Regions from separate parts of the Homo sapiens genome. Here all the other regions are linked to region 1. Evidence: fine-mapped expression QTL. A gene starts in region 1. Each other region holds a variant in brackets. All regions are shown on one strand. Distances are from middle to middle.

Region 1 (5,221 bases):
TCAGAAGGATGGGAAAAGCCTGTCAGTCTGGACACTGAAGATTAAAATCTAAAGTGCACCACGTTCTCCTGTTGGCATCGTAAAGTTCTTCCTCCTCACCAGGAAAAGCTCCGAGCCCTGGCTGAATTAACATCAGACTGGATGTCAAGAAACAGAGGGGATGAGGCCTCAAAATAATGCTCTTCAGATGAGGTGTTTAGCTGGGATGACATGTGGGTCTCAGCTCCCTCTGTTACCCAAACTCCACTCTATGTCCTAAATGTCCTAAGCACCTCCAAGGAGCCAGCCTGGTGGGGATGGTCAAAGTGCGATCGCTGACAAAGTGGCAAGAGCTCTCTGCACACCTGCCTGGCTGCCTCACAAGTTGCTCTCTGTTTGACCATCTCCCACTCCTGGGGCTTCTGGCCCTCCCTCCAGGAAAGCAGTTTCACTGTAAATTCTGTGCACACACGCACACGCACACACACACACACACCCATCCTATCTCTCCTCTTTGGGGAGAAAAATGTCCTGTGATGCTTACTTGGAACCCTGAGCTTCAACGATGGCTCATCTTGTACTTGAAAGATTTAGCACACCAAACATCTCCACCTGTCCCCCAGTCCCCTGGATTTCAGGAGCAAACCCGTCATCCTGCAACTCCTTCCAGAAGTCACCAGTTTCCCACGCACCCCTCTTCACTACTCAAGAGCTCCCCACCCCTTCCACCATCTCTCCTCAGTTCACGGCTCCATGGACCCCTCAATTCCTCAAAGAATTTCCCCATCTCTTTGCACCAAGACTGAGAATCCCCTAGAAACAAGCTGGCCCTGCCCTGGTCTCCCCCATCTCCAACGGCAGGTATACTCATCCCAACATACTCTCTTTCCGGACCAGCCTCGACCCCGGTAACTTCCCGGCCTTCTCCACTTCGGACCCTACCCAACATTTTCTGGCCTCCTCGCCCAAGTCTCCCCACGTCCCAAGCAGTCATCCCAAGCTTGTTCCAAAAGCCTCCTCTTCCGCACCAGCTGCTTGGGCACCACGGTTACTCCGGCCCGCATCTCAGCCCCCTCTGCATGTCCTCAGACCCTTCACCTGTCTCCCCAGCCAGGCCCTGACTTCCTAGTCCTCCTCCTGTGTCCACTTACCACCACCCCTCACCCGATGCCTAAGGCGGCCACTCCTCCCCATCCCCATCCCAACTCCATCGCGGAGCCTCTGACCCATCCACCCGGCTCTCCGTGTGAACTGTTCGGCCCTCCACCTTTCCCCACCGCCGGGAGGCCCTGCCTGCCCCGGTGCGCCTCTTCCTCGGCCGCCGCGGGGCCTCTCAGCGCCGCCTGCAGTCCCGGCTGAGCCCGCGCCCTCGGCCCGCGCAGAGCGACCCCACAGCACTCCCAGCGCTCGGCGTCCCCTCGGCCTCCCCCAGTCCCGGGCCAGCTCTCCCTGCCCTGACCCCGTCTCGGGCCTGGCCTCGCCCTCGCTGTCCCCGGCCTCTCCTCGGGTCCACTTGGGCCTCCGAGGCCCCCGGGGCGCCTGAGGAGCCGTCCGCCCGGGTTGTCCCTCCGTGCCCGTGGGCCCCTCCATGCCCCGGCTGCCCGTCCATGCCCCGTGGGCCCCGGCTCAGATGCCGAACGCCCCGGCTGCCCCTCCACGCCCCGGCCGCCCCTCCACGCCCCGGCCGCCCCTCCGTGCCCCGTGGGCCCCGCCTCACGTGCCGCCCGCCCCGGATCCCCTCCATCCCCGCTGGGCCCGCCTCAGGCACCCTCCGTCCCTGCTGCCCCTCCGTCCATCCGGGCCCTGCGTCCCTCGCCGCGCCGTCGCCCCGGCGGCCGTCCCCACCCTCCCTCCTCCCCGCTTCCGCACGGCCGCCGGACACTCACTACTCCTTGAGCAGCACCATGTCGCTTCGCGGCTCGGTGGCTGCCCGCGGCCCGCCCGGCCTCCCGCCCGCTGCCCGCCGGCCGCTCTCCCCGTGGCCCGGCCCGGCCCGGCTGCCTGTGCGTCTTCGTCGTGCTCTGCTCCGTCCCCGCCGCCCTCGCCGCGGTCGCCGCGCCGGCTCCTGCCGCCCGGGCCTCGTCGCCTCTCGCGCCGCTGCCGACGCCGCCCGGAGCTCCGGTTCCGCAGCGCCGCGCGGGGGCGGGGCGTCTCTGCGGCAACCAGAGCGTCACACGCCGCGGTGCGCGCTGACGTCACGCGGGGCCGAGCCTTCCCAGGCCCGCCCTCCCGTCCTTAAGTGGGCCGCGGCGGCGCTGTCGGTTCCGAGGTGGGGCCCCGCGGCTGGGGCCAGACCCGGCAGAAGGCGGAGCAGACTAGGGTGTCCGTCACCGTCCTCGGTGTGAACCGCCACGGATGCACGCGGGTGCTGGCTGGGGGGCCTCCCCGGTTGAGGGAATTGAGACCCAGGAAAAGGTTGTTTCAAAAAATATTAATAGCCGCGCGCGGTGGCCCACGCCTGTAATCCTTGCACCTTGGGAGGCCGAGGCGGGCGGATCACCTGAGGTCAGGAGTTCGAGACCAGCCTGGCCAACATGATGAAACCCCGTCTCTACTAAAAATACAAAAATTAGCTGGGCGTGGAGGCACGCACCTGTAATCCCAGCTACACGGGAGGCTGAGGCGGGAGAATCGCTTGTACCGGGAGGCAGAGTTTGCAGTGAGCCGAGATCGCGATCGCGCCATTGCACTCCAGCCTGGGGGACAAGAGTGAAACTTCGTCTCAAAAAAAAAAAAAAGAAAAGAAAAGGGCTGTGAGGCCGGGCGCGGTGGCTCCTGGCAGTAATCCCAGGCACATCATGCCTGTAATGCAGCACTCAGGCGGGCGCATCACCTGAGGTCAGGAGTTCCAGACCAGATGGCGAAACCCCATCTCTACTAAAAGTACAAAAATTAGCCGGGCGTGGTGGTGGACGTGGTGGTGGTAGTCCCAGCTGCTCGGGAGGATGAGGCAGGAGAATCGCTTGAACCCTGGAGGCGGAGGTTGCAGTGAGCCGAGATCGCACCATTGCACTCCAGCTGGGGCGACAGAGCGAGACTCTGCATCAAAAAAAAAAAAAAAAAAAAGAATGAAAAGGGCTGTGAGAAATGAGACACAGGCTTAGCGGCATTACACGGAGGGGCACCTAATTGAGCGTCAGGGATGTAGTCAGGGAAGGCTTCCTGGAGGAAGAGATTCTCAGATCTGCAGAGGGCTTCGGAGAAGAGCATAGCAGGCAGAGTGAATGCAAAGGCTGGAGGCAAGAGGGAGAGCATGGTGCATTTGGAGAACTGACAAGTGAGTGGAACAGAACATTTCAGGGCTGAGCAGCTCAATAGGGGAGGGTTCCTGGTGAACGATGATAAGGTATTTGGAGTCCACCCTAAGGGCGGTGGGAGGGCATGTAAGGGCTCTGAGCAGTGACATGAGCGGGTGTCCTGGGCGAAGGCTCACTCTAGTGGTTGGGTGGACAGAGGGGATGGAATGCCAGAGCGTAGGCAGGGAGACCGGCGAGGAGGCTGCTGCAGATGTCCAGGTGCAGGTGGACTAGGACAGTGGGAGGGAAGAAAAGGAAGGGATGGATTCAGGAGCAACTCAGAAGGTAAACTCCGTGAGACTTGTTGACTCATTGGCTGAGAGGAGGAGAGAAAAGCAGCGAGGTCTCTGGCCTGGGAGCCGGGGTGGACGGTACTGTCTTCTCTGAGAACACAGGCAAGACAGGCTGGCATGGGGGCAGGTAATGACTCCAGTGCTGGACTCACACTCAGCGCAGGACGCTAGAGGGGCATCCAGGGGAGATGGGAGTGGGCTGCCTAAGACAGGGACTTGGGAAGGGAGGGTGGAGCAGCTGGCCGTGTTGCTATCAGGATGTGACTGGCGGCCCGCGACTGCCCTGAGCACTGTGCTCACTTATCAGATCCTAGAGTGGGGGCCAGGCTGAGTGCCTCACACCTGGATTCCCAGCACTTTGGGAGGCTGGGGCGGGCGAATCACTTGAGGCCAGGAGTTCAAGACCAGCCTGGCCAACATGGTAAAACCCCATCTCTACTAAAACAAAAATTAGCTCAGTGTGGTGGCATGTGCCTGTCGTCTCAGTTACTCGGGAGGCTGAGGTAGGAGAATCGCTTGAGCCCTGGAGGCAGAGGTTGCAGTGAGCCGAGATCATGCCACCGCACTCCAGCCTGGGCGACAGAGCAAGATTCTGTCTCAAAAAAACAAGCCGACCACTATTCACAATAGCAAAGACTTGGAACCAACCCAAATGCCCATCAATGACAGACTGGATAAAGAAAATGTGGCACAGCCGGGCGCGGTGGCTCACTCCTATAATCCTACCACTTTGGGAGGCTGAGGCGGGCGGATCATCAGGTCAAGAGATCAAGACCATCCTGGCTGAAATGGTGAAACCCTGTCTCTACTAAAAATACAAAAATTAGCTGGGTGTGGTGGCACGCGCCTGTAGTCCCAGCTACTCGGGAGGCTGAGGCAGGAGGATCACTTGAATGCAGGAGGATCACTTGAATTCAGGAGGCAGAGGTTGCAGCGAGCCAAGATCGTGTCACTGCGCTCCAGCCTGGCGAGAGTTAGACTCTGTCTCAAAAAAAAAAAAGTCTCAGATAATGTGGCACATATACACCATGGAATACTATGCAGCCATAAAAAAGGATGAGTTAATATCCTTTGTAAGGACATGGATGAATCTGGAAACCATCATTCTCAGCAAACTATAGCAAGGACAGAAAACCAAACACTGCATGTTCTCATTCATAGGTGGGAATTGAACAATGAGAATACTTAGACACAGGAAGGGGAACATCACACTCTGGGGCCTGTTGTGGGACGGGGGGAGGGGGAGGGATAGCATTAGGAGATATTCCTAATGTAAATGACTAGTTAATGGGTGCAGCACACCAACATGGCACATGTATACATATGTAACAAGCCTGCACGTTGTGCACATGTACCCTAGAACTTAAGTATAATAAGAAAATAAAATTAAATTTAAATTAAAATAAAAAAAAACAAGCCGACCTTGGACATCATGTCATCTCACCCCTCCAGGTTACAGTGCACATTCTAGAAATATGCACATTTCTTACAAATGCATAATGCCATTGTCATACTTAACAAAATTAATAATGATTTCCTGATGCTATCTCATCCCCAGTTCATATTCTAATTTCCCTGCTAATCTAAAAAATGCTATAGTTTCCTTTAGAGAAGTTCAGTATCCAGGCAAGGTCCATGTATTTTTTTTTTTCA
Region 2 (5,210 bases), 61 kb before region 1:
ACTGAGAGACCTCCCACCTGTTCTTCACTTGCCAGTTTCCCTGAGGGGTTTGGAAAAGGTAATACGCTCCGGAGACAAAATGCATTCCTCCTCTAGGTAACTGAAGTTGACCAAAGACGAGTCTCTGACCCATAACCCAGCCTTCCGAAGCAACTACTGTGGCAGTTTCTAAGGCCACCTTGTCCTTGAGGCCCTGCCCTCCTGGAGACCAGCAGCTCTGACTCCTGGAGGTGGGGTGTGTGTGTGGCGGGGGAGCAGGACAGCTGCGGTTTCTGGGTTCCACCCCCTTCATGGACAATCTCCTTTCTTGAATCAACCCAGAGTAATAAAGCCTAATTGGATCAATCAATCAATCAATCTATAGACAGGGTCTCACACACTCTATCTCATCTATTGATCGATCGACAGGTCTCACTGTGTTGAATCCTATCTACCTACCTATTGATTGATCAATCCATCGACAGGGTCTTGCTGTGTTGCCCAGGCTGAGTGCGGTGGCACAATCCTAACTCACTGCAGCTTCAAATGCCTGGGCTTCAAGCAACCCCCCACCTCCGCCTCCTGACCAGCTGGGACCACAGGCATGTGCCAGGGCACCCGGCTATTTTAGAACCTTTAAGGCATCTTCACTGCCTCCAGAATAAAGTTAAAGTCCCCAAGTAGGGCTTTCAAGGGGCTCAGGAGTCTGACCACCCCATCCTTCATCTCACACCACTTCCCCAGACCCACTCCACCTTGGTGACTCTCTCAAGCCTCTGGACCTTTGCTTTTGCAGTATTTGCTGCCTGGAACACCTTTCTTCACCAGGGAGAGGCCTTTGCCGAAACCATCCCAGACATTAGCTTTTTGCTTCCAAAGTTTTTTTTTTTTTTTGAGACGGAGTCTCGCTCTGTTGCCCAGGCTGGAGTGCACTGGCGCAATCTCGGCTCACTGCAAGCTCCGCCTCCCAGGTTCATGCAATTCTCCTGCCTCAGCCTCCAGAATAGCTGGGATTACAGGCGCCTGCCACCATGCCTGGCTAACTTTTTTGTATTTTTAGTAGAGACGGGGTTTCACCGCATTAGCCAGGATGGTCTTGATCTCCTGACCTCGTGATCTGCTCGCCTTGGCCTCCCAAAGTGCTGGATTACAGGCGTGAGCCACCGCGCCCGGCCACTGAAACATTTTATACCAGTATTATACGATTACACTACATTGCAATTTTCTGTTTCCCACTCAGCATGTCACTTAGGTGTAAGCCCTGAAGGCAAGGACTTAGCTGTTGGAGTGTCCTGTGTATCCTCAGCATTAGCACAGATCCTGGCACACAGGTACTCAATAACCAGGTACACTTACTAAAAACCCAAGCTGAAGCTCGTCCCTCAAAAATGTCCGTCTAATCTTAATGTTTACAGCTCCATATACTCGCAGTTGGAAACACTATTTTTGTCTCCTTCTTTATTCAACTGCTTTTTTTTTTTTTTTTTTTTAAGACGGAGTCTCGCTATCGCCCAGGCTGGAGTGCAGTGGCGCAATCTCAGCTCACTGCAACCTCTGCCTCCCGGGTTCAAGCGATTCTCCTGCCTCAGCCTCCCAAGTAGCTGGGATTATAGGCGTTGAGCCACCATGCCCAGCTAATTTTTGTATTTTTAGTAGAGACTGGGTTTCACCATGCTGGCCAGGCTGGTCTTGAACTCCTGACCTTGTGATCCGCCCGCCTCGGCCTCCCAAAGTGCTGGGATTATAGGCGTGAGCCACCGTGCCTGGCCTATTCAACTGCTATTTTAAATAAATGTTCCCAATGTACTGGTGTCCCTTCAACAGTAAAAGAGTAAGTATTCTAGCAACTGAGGAGAATGGCGTTACAGTGGTGAGCTCAGACTTTTGAATCAGAGACCAGTTGGGGGAAGGGTCCGTCCTGTTAATTGAGAGCTGTATGCCCCTGGGCAAGTGACTTCATTTCTCTAAGCCTCAGTTTCTTCAGCTGTTAAGACGGGGTGATAACAGTACTTACTTCAAAGAGCAGTAATGAAATTAAAGGGCGTCAAGGGGGTGGTCACGAAGCGGTAACTTTGACTAACCCTGGTCTGCCTGTTGGCTCCTTGGGTCATTTCCAATCTTTCACTCTTCTAAGGAGTGTTCAGAGGGCACTGGAATGTGGTATTCCCATCCCAGAGACCACAGACACTGCGTCCCTGAATCTGCCTTGGACAGCAGGTGCCTAGCAATGCTTACAACTTGGTAATGGGGCTGGGCACGGTGGCTCACGCCTGTAATCCCAGCACTGTGGGAGGCTGAGGCGGGCGGATCACAAGGTCAGGAGTTCAAGACCAGCCTGGCCAACATGGTGAAACCCCGTCTCTACTAAAAACACACACACACACACACACACACAAATTTGCCAGGCGTGGTGGCATGTGCCTGTAACCCCAGCTACTCAGGAGGCTGAGGCAGGAGAATCGCTTGAACCTGGGAAGCGGAGGTTTCAGTGAGCCAAGATTGCATTGTTGCATTCCAGCCTGGGCAACAGAGCAAGACTCCATCTCAAAAAAAAAAAAGAAAAAAACAAACAAACATAGGGCCAGGCACGGTGGCTCACGCCTGTAATCCCAGCACTTTGGGAGGCCAAGGCGGGCAGATCATGAGGTCAGGACAT[G/T]GAGACCATCCTGGCTAACATGGTGAAACCCCGTCTCTACTAAAAATACAAAAAATTAGCCAGGCGTGGTGACGGGCGCCTGTAGTCCCAGCTACTCAGGAGGCTGAGGCAAGAGAATGGCGTGAACCCGGGAGACAGAGCTTGTAGTGAGTGGAGATCGCGCCACTGCACTCCAGCCTGGGCGACAGAGCGAGACTCCGTCTCAAACAAACAAACAAACAAACTTGGTAATGAACCACACAAATGCACGTTCTCTCTTTCAAAGCATTCTCCCTCCCTAACTTCCCTGTGATGGTTTGGAGCCCATATATGCTGTCATGTAAGGGTCTTCCCCAAGCCCTGACCACAGCCTGTCTCTCCTTCCTCCTCAGGACTCTCAGCCCACCCCCACCCCCCTTTTTTCCTTTTCCTTGCCACGGCCAGGCTGATCACTGGGCATACCAAGATTTACTTAGCCCTTCTTATGTGCCCCGCAACTGGGGATATGAGAAATAGGATGGACAAAGTCCTTGAGGAGCCTGTTTAGCAAAATCCAAGAAACAAGCAAAGTGAGCGTGTACAAATTAACCAAGTTCTCTCCACTCCACCTTGTTTTTCTTTAGAGACAGGGTCTTGCTGTCATGCAGGCTGGAGTGCAGTGGTGTCCTCCTAGCTCACTGCAGCCTCCTTGAACTCCGAGGCTCAAATGATCCTCCTGCCTCAGCCTCCTGAGGAGCTGGGACTTCAGGGGTACACACCATGCCCAGCTGTTTTTTTTTTCTTTTTAAGACAGGGTCTCACTGTTGCCCAGGCTGGAGTGCAGTGGTGTGATCACAGCCCACTACAGCCTCAACCTCCTGGACTCAAGCAAGGCTCCCACCCCAGTCTCCTGAGTAGCTGGGACTACGGGTATGTGCCACCATGCCAACTTTTGTATTTTTTTGTAGAGATGGGGTTTCACCATGTTGCCCAGGCTGAACCTGAGCTCCTGGGTTCAAGTGATCATCCTGTCTCTGCCTCCCAAATTGCTGGGTTTAGAGGTGTGACCCATCACGCCTGGCCTTTTTTTTTTTTTTTTGAGACGAAGTCTCGCTCTGTCACTCAGGCTGGAGTGCAGTGGCGTGATCTCGGCTCACTGCAACCTCCGCCTCCTGGGTTCACGCCATTCTCCTGCCTCAGCCTCCCGAGTAGCTGGGACTACAGGTGCCCGCCACCATGCCCGGCTAATTTTTTTTTATTTTTAGTAGAGACGGGGTTTCACCGTGTTCACCAGGATGGTCTCGATCTCCTGACCTCGTGATCCACCCGCCTGGCCTCCCAAAGTGCTGGGATTTCAGGCGTGAGCCACCGCACCCGGCCACACCAGGCCTTTTAAAAAAATTTTGCAGGGGGAGGGTTCTCACTCTGATGGTGAAACCTCATCTCTACTAAAAATACAAAAAATTAGCCAGGCATGGTGGCGGGTGCCTGTAATCCTAGCTATTCAGGAGGCTGAGGCAGGCGAGAATCACTTGAGCCCAGGAGGCGGACGTTGCAGTGAGCCAAGATCATGCCATTGCACTCCAGCCTGGGTGACAAGAAGAAAACTCTGTCTCGAAAAAAATAAAACACTTTGTCTGGGCTCACAGTGGCAACTATAACAAAACTCCAGTGTAACCCCGGACTTTAGCAGGATTCCCGCCCTGCCCTCAGCCCTTTTGCCCTCCCTATAAGGGAGCTGGCCTCGTTTCTCATTACATCTTGGCTCAGGGACACCGTAGTGGCTGGCCCAGCACACTAACGCTCACAGTCACTTCATCAAACCGGCCCCCTCCAGGTTCCTCTCGTCAGTGTGCTGACTGATTGGAAAGCCCGCCTTTCTGCTTTCTGCGAAACTCTGTGCCTCCTTCAAGATACTGTCCTTGACAGGAAGTCTGACAGGCCTCTCCTAGCTTTAGCTGTTCACCTCCTTAACATTTGCTCCAACCTTCTGCACGGAGTTCTGGAAACCTTCTATTGACTAACTCCCAGGCTTGGTAACATATGCCAGGTACTGTGCTACTCCCAGGGATGGTCCTAAATCAGATCGTCTCTGCTCTCTGGGCAATCACAGTACAGTAAGAAAGGTACGCTGTGTCTCAAAAGCAACACTGAAAGCATGGCATGCGCAAGGCTGGGGGTGGCACAAGGCAGGAGAGGAACTCTCAGTGAGATGAGGAGGGGCCGGGAAGGCGTCCTAGGAGAAGTGATGTCTCAACTGGGTTTCCAAGGATAAAATAACAGTGTCATTAGACAGGAATATCTGTTCCCCAGGTGGGCTCAGGCCCTGCTCACTGCAAAACTCCCAGCTGCCCCTGGATCCTGGCCCCAGCCAGGAGTATTTCAGTTACCATGTCCCCTGTTCCCGCCCAGACAGTCTTGCATTTCCTGGGCTCCAGCCAAAGGGAAGCAGTACCGAAGGCTCATGAGTCTACAGACACAGATATGAGTTCCAATCCTCGTGCGATGAAGAAGCCTGTTACTCCTTACTTATATATTCTTTGAGACTCAGTTGCTTTCCTTGTAAACAGGCAATAATAACACTGTTTACCTAACGAGGACATGGTAGGAACTGATA
Region 3 (5,221 bases), 42 kb before region 1:
CCATCAGGATGTCACAGGTGCAATCCTGTGAGACACTCCCTTATTGCACTTAGAAATGAGTAAGGCAAACAAACTGACAAAAACAGGATACATTCTCCCACCCACTTCTTGCTTCCCGGACAAAGATTTGGTCTCCCATTAGCAGATGCACCCAGGCTAGTGTGGGCTGGGATCACGGCACACTTAGGCCAACGTGCTTCACAAGGTTTGGGGAATGTCAGGTGACACTACAGCTCTCTCTCATTCTCCCACTAAGAGGCAAACTCAGGCTCTGTCAAGTTGCAGGAAGCTATGAACACTGGGCAGCGTCTGTTCCCCTGGAGCCTGGACTTCCTCACCAGCCTACTTTGGTCGGGTTCTGTACTATGATCACTACTTGCTTTGGGTTTTCCAGGGCAGAACTCAACATGGGGGTAGGACGAGCTAAGTTCTTGATCCCCAAATTCCTTTCCGGCAACTGGAGACGAGGGAACATGTTCTGCTGGAAAAAGCTTTTTGCATGCTCATATTGTGCAGCATGAAAGATCAGGACTCTTGCTTCCTAACCAGCCTCAAAGACAGAGGACAGGGACCTAAGAAAGCACAGAGAAAAGAGGATTATTGCTGAGTGGCAGCACCAGCCCCAAAGGGAAGAGGAGGAGCAGGGACTTACAGAGCTCCTCGGGGTCAGACAGTTGGTATCTAGGGGGTGACTCAATTCTAGGGGCCACACTGGACAATTCCCTCCAAGTGGAGAGTTGACTGGGGCGATTTTGTAGACTGCAGAGAGATTCAGAGCGGGCAACAGGAGGGCCAAGAAGCCACAGGTGTTTCTAAGAGTAGTAACTAGAGATTCAGTGATTGGGACAGGGTTACTCGTATTTGTTAAATTTTCTTAAATAGAGACTGGCTGAGCCTTGGGTACCTCCATAGTGCTAGAGTGCCCTAACGATGGGTTACTGGGAGCAGAAGTCAGAGCTGCAAAACCACATTGCTATTTTGTGGAAGCGGTGCGGGGCAGGGAAACATTGTATCTTTAGCTCATCCCCGCTCCCCACAGGAGCACTCAAAATTGCGAAGATCTTCCCAGGAAGCAAAATACCTCAGTTTACCCCAAGGTTGAGAACAAATGAACTTAAATCATTTAAATCACCACATCACAAAAGGCAGCTATTTGAAAGACTGAAAATGTCACTTGGAAATAAAGGTTGGGGGAACACACAGAAATGGATCGGAACACAATGGAGAGAGACGGAGGCGCTGTAACTACAGCAACCTACACGCCACGTATCTCGGAGGAGCAGGCTCCTGCACACGCGGGCTCTGTGACACCAGACGGTCTATTTGTTCACAATACTGAAGGGCATCTAGAATTAGCTACAGTAAGGAATCGAAAGTTGCCTGAAGAATGGGCACAGAACGGCTGCGTCCGAAAATGGCCTGTCACTTGGGAGGGTGGAGCTGCTGGGTCTTCCTGTTGACCACTGTCTTGCAAAACTAGAAGAAAAATGAAAGTATTAAGGAAGCAAGAGGAGAAAACAGAAACACTGTAAATCGTCCTGAATGGATAATTTCAAGAGGAGGAGGGAAGCCAGTGGGTGGGTGGGGAAGGGAGTGGGGGAGAGCACTGAGGCCCAGAGCAGTGACTGAGAAGCTGGCATCACAGCAGTCCGCCTCATTCCACCCTCCAGCCTCCCCGAGGCTGCTTTGGGAACATGGGGCAGGGAGAGTAAGCAGGGCCTGCCGTCACTCCTGGTGAGACCCTGGCCCTCCTTGCCCGTAGGGTTAGAGGCCAGCTTTTATTTGTAAAAATAATTTTCTCTCTGAGGCTAATTGGGAGCAGAGCCAGGTTTTTCATTCAGTGATTAAGACTGCTTTGAGCTGCTGGAATCCCATGACTCGGGTGGTGTACAGGGCACTGGGAAACCAGCACCGAGAGTTAACGGAAGGAGGGGGCTTGGGGAAAAGTGACAACATGAAACAAGGGGCCCCCAATCTGGCCCTGTGACCTGGGCAGAAACACCCTCCCAGCATCTGAAAGATGCCACCTCTGATGAGGGCAGCTTAGTATGGGATCGGGGGTATAAAGAAGGAAATGAAGCACCAGACAACAGTGGGTGCTAACAAAAGCTGTCTGGCCAGCAAGTTTTCCAAGGGGGAAGGGCAGGTAATGGCAGCTTTTGGGAGCTGGCGCTGGCGTGGGAAGGCCAGGGAGTGCCCAACATGACAGCTGCAACTTGAGATGGATCAAGCTGGCAGACAGGAGGAGTGATTCGCAGCAGATGAACTCCCCTTCTATATCCACCACCCCCTCCCTGTCCATTGTCTCTATCTGGGTGGTTCTTTGGAAAATGTCCCTGAAATGTCCCAAGGGCCATAATCTCCTAGTGGAAGTGGAGAGCTATCGAGCGTGGCAACCATCATTACTAGAGGGAAGGAGGAATAGGTTTTCTGACTCCATAGTGAGCTGCTGAGGCCTTGAAACCCAAACTGATTTTAGCGTCTGTGACACGCACAGTGAGAAATTTGGTACGTACAGTGCAGAGGGGAAAGGCGGCTTTAGTCATCTGCTGTCATTCCTTTCACTGGGTCCTTTTGTCTCATCTGGAACA[A/G]AAAAAGCAGGACAAATGGAAGGCTCCTGCTGCTGATGGAACTCCTGCCTTCTCAGTCCTGCCCATAGGTGGGGTGGGGCATATTTTGTGTAAAAAGCAAGACACTGGAAGGACGGAAGAATTCTGCATATGGACTCGAAGCCATACATTTCCAGATCTGTGTCACTGGTCTCACCATCCATGATTTCTAGTTCTCTCGTGTCACGGTGTTTGAAGCACCTTTTTTTTTTTTTTTTTTTTGGTAAAGAGGTGTGTGTGGGGGGGTCTTCCTATGTTGACCAGGCTGGTCTTGGGCTCCTGGCCTCACACGATCCTCTGCCTCAACCTCCCAAAGTGCTGGGATTACAGCATAGGTGTGAGCCACCACACTTGGCCCGTTTCATTCATTTATTCATTCAACAAATACTTATGAAACATCTTTTTTTTTTTGAGACGGAGTCTCGCTCTGCCGCCCAGGCCGGACTGCGGACTGCAGTGGCGCAATCTCGGCTCACTGCAAGCTCCGCTTCCCGGGTTCACGCCATTCTCCTGCCTCAGCCTCCCGAGTAGCTGGGACTACAGGCGCCCGCCACCGCGCCCGGCTAATTTTTTGTATTTTTAGTAGAGACGGGGTTTCACCTTGTTAGCCAGGATGGTCTCGATCTCCTGACCTCATGATCCACCCGCCTCGGCCTCCCAAAGTGCTGGGATTACAGGCGTGAGCCACCGCGCCTGGCCGAAACATCTTTTTTTGTGTGTGTGAGGAGTCTTGCTCTGTCGCCCAGGCTGGAGTGCAGTGGCGCAAAGTTGGCTTACTGCAACCTCTGCCTCCTGGATTCAAGCGATTGTCCTGCTTCAGCCTCCCAAGTAGCTGGGATTGCAGGTATGCACCATCACGCCCAGCTAATTTTTGTATTTTTAGGGGAGACGGGGTTTCACCATTTTGGCCAGGCTGATCTTGAACTCCTGACCTCAGATGATCTGCCTGCCTTGGCCTCCTGAAGTGCTTGGATTACAGGCGTGAGCCACCGCACCCAGCCTCAGTGAGGCATCTCTTTAGTGCTAGGGACTTCCAGAGGGCTGGGAATATTTAGCTGTGAACTAAACAGACCAGTTCTCTCCTCAAGGAGCTTATATTCTGGGGCAGGATGGGCAGAGAACAAACATTCATCTATGTCAGCTAGGACTGTGGGCTGCTCGGATACAGAATGACTGTGGGTAAGTGCTATTTTAGGTAGTTACAGAAGCTTGTATGTGAGGTTTGAGATGAAACCTGAGAGAAATGAGGGAGAAAATCCTGTGGCTCTCCGGGAGAGGAGTTCCCGGCAGAGTAACAGAACTTCCCTTTCCTGACCTGTTTAAAGGTGGGCACAATGTGGTGTCAGAACTAGGCACAAGGATGCAGAGGTGGAAAGTGCAGGTGCAGGTCTCAGATCCACAGATGTGCAAGGCTGCTGGAAAACAGGATGGGGGCTTCTGTGGAAGCACCAAGTGGTCCCTGTCACTGGCACCTTCCAGGCAGACATCACTGGGGATACTGTAGACGTCATCTCTCTAAAATCAGTTCTGATTTGAAAACTCCATTCTATGTGAAGAATGTCAATAAGTATTTCTTCACTATCCATTAGTTTTCTGCTCAACTTTTGTTCTTTATAATGTTCAACAAATTTTGAGCACCTAAGAGCATAGCTGCTAGAATGAAACTCCCTAGACTGTATTGTTTTGTTTGAGACAGGGTCTGGCTCTGTTGCCCAGGATGGAGTGCAGTGGCGCAATCATGGCTCACTACAGCCTCGACTCCCTGGCTCAAGTGATCCTCCTGCCTCAGCATCCCAAGAAGCTGGGACTACAGGCATGTGCCACCACGCCTGGCTTTTTTTTTTTTTTTTTTTGAGACACAGTCTCTCTCTCTGTCGCCAGGCTGGATGGCAGTGGTGTGATCTCGGCTCACTGCAATCTCTGCCTCCCGGGTTCAAGCAATTCCCCTGCCTCAGCCTCCCCAGTAGCTGGGACTATAGGCACACGCCACCATGCCTGGCTAATTTTTTTTTGTATTTTAATAGGGACGGGGTTTCACCATGTTGGTCAGGATGATCTCAATCTCCTAACCTCACGATCTGCCTGCCTCAGCCTCCCAAAGTGCTGGGATTACAGGCGTGAGCCACTGCACCCAGCCACCTGGCTGATTTTTTATTTTTTCGGTGTGTGTGGGGACAGGGTCTCATTGTATTGCCCAGGCTAGTCTCGAACCCCTGGACTTAAGTAGTCCTCCCGCCATGGCCTCCCAAAGTGCTGGGATTACAGGAATGAGCCACTGCACCTGGCCTGGATTGTATTCTGACTCCATCACTAATTGTATGACCTTGAGTAAGTTACTGCAATGCTCTCTAAGCCTCAGTTTTTTTCTTTTTTCTTTTTTTTTTTTTTTTTGAGACGGAGTCTCGCTCAGTCACCCAGGCTGGTGTGCAGTGGCACGATCTTGGCTCACTGCAAGCTCTGCCTCCTGGGTTCACGCCATTCTCCTGCCTCAGCCTCCCGAGTAGCTGAGACTATAGGTGCCCACCAACACGCCCGGCTAATTTTTTGTGTTTTTAGTAGAGACGGGGTTTCACCATGTTAGCCAGGATGGTCTCCATGTCCTGACCTCATGA

What was found.
Region 2: its variant is fine-mapped to the expression of PITPNA in gastroesophageal junction (GTEx, PIP 0.93).
Region 3: its variant is fine-mapped to the expression of PITPNA in whole blood (INTERVAL, PIP above 0.99). The same link has a PIP of 0.9 or more in esophagus mucosa.

The regions. Positions count from the first base shown.
Region 1 is chr17:1,560,676-1,565,896 of GRCh38, forward strand. PITPNA (phosphatidylinositol transfer protein alpha) reads right to left here and starts at 2,117. Exons shown (of 12, transcript NM_006224.4): 1 at 1,866-2,117. The coding sequence starts at 1,885. RefSeq lists enhancers at 1-155, 1,070-1,169, 1,938-2,437 and silencers at 1,280-1,409, 1,890-1,939, 2,010-2,289.
Region 2 is chr17:1,499,510-1,504,719 of GRCh38, forward strand. The region is part of intron 7 of INPP5K (inositol polyphosphate-5-phosphatase K); the gene reads right to left. Among named protein-coding and RNA genes, the nearest start is that of MYO1C, 9.4 kb to the left of the region's middle. The variant G/T (reference allele first, on the strand shown) is at 2,636.
Region 3 is chr17:1,519,063-1,524,283 of GRCh38, forward strand. PITPNA (phosphatidylinositol transfer protein alpha) reads right to left here. Exons shown (of 12, transcript NM_006224.4): 11 at 2,517-2,583; 12 at 1-1,476. The coding sequence ends at 2,539. Among named protein-coding and RNA genes, the nearest start is that of PITPNA-AS1, 4.8 kb to the left of the region's middle. The variant A/G (reference allele first, on the strand shown) is at 2,592.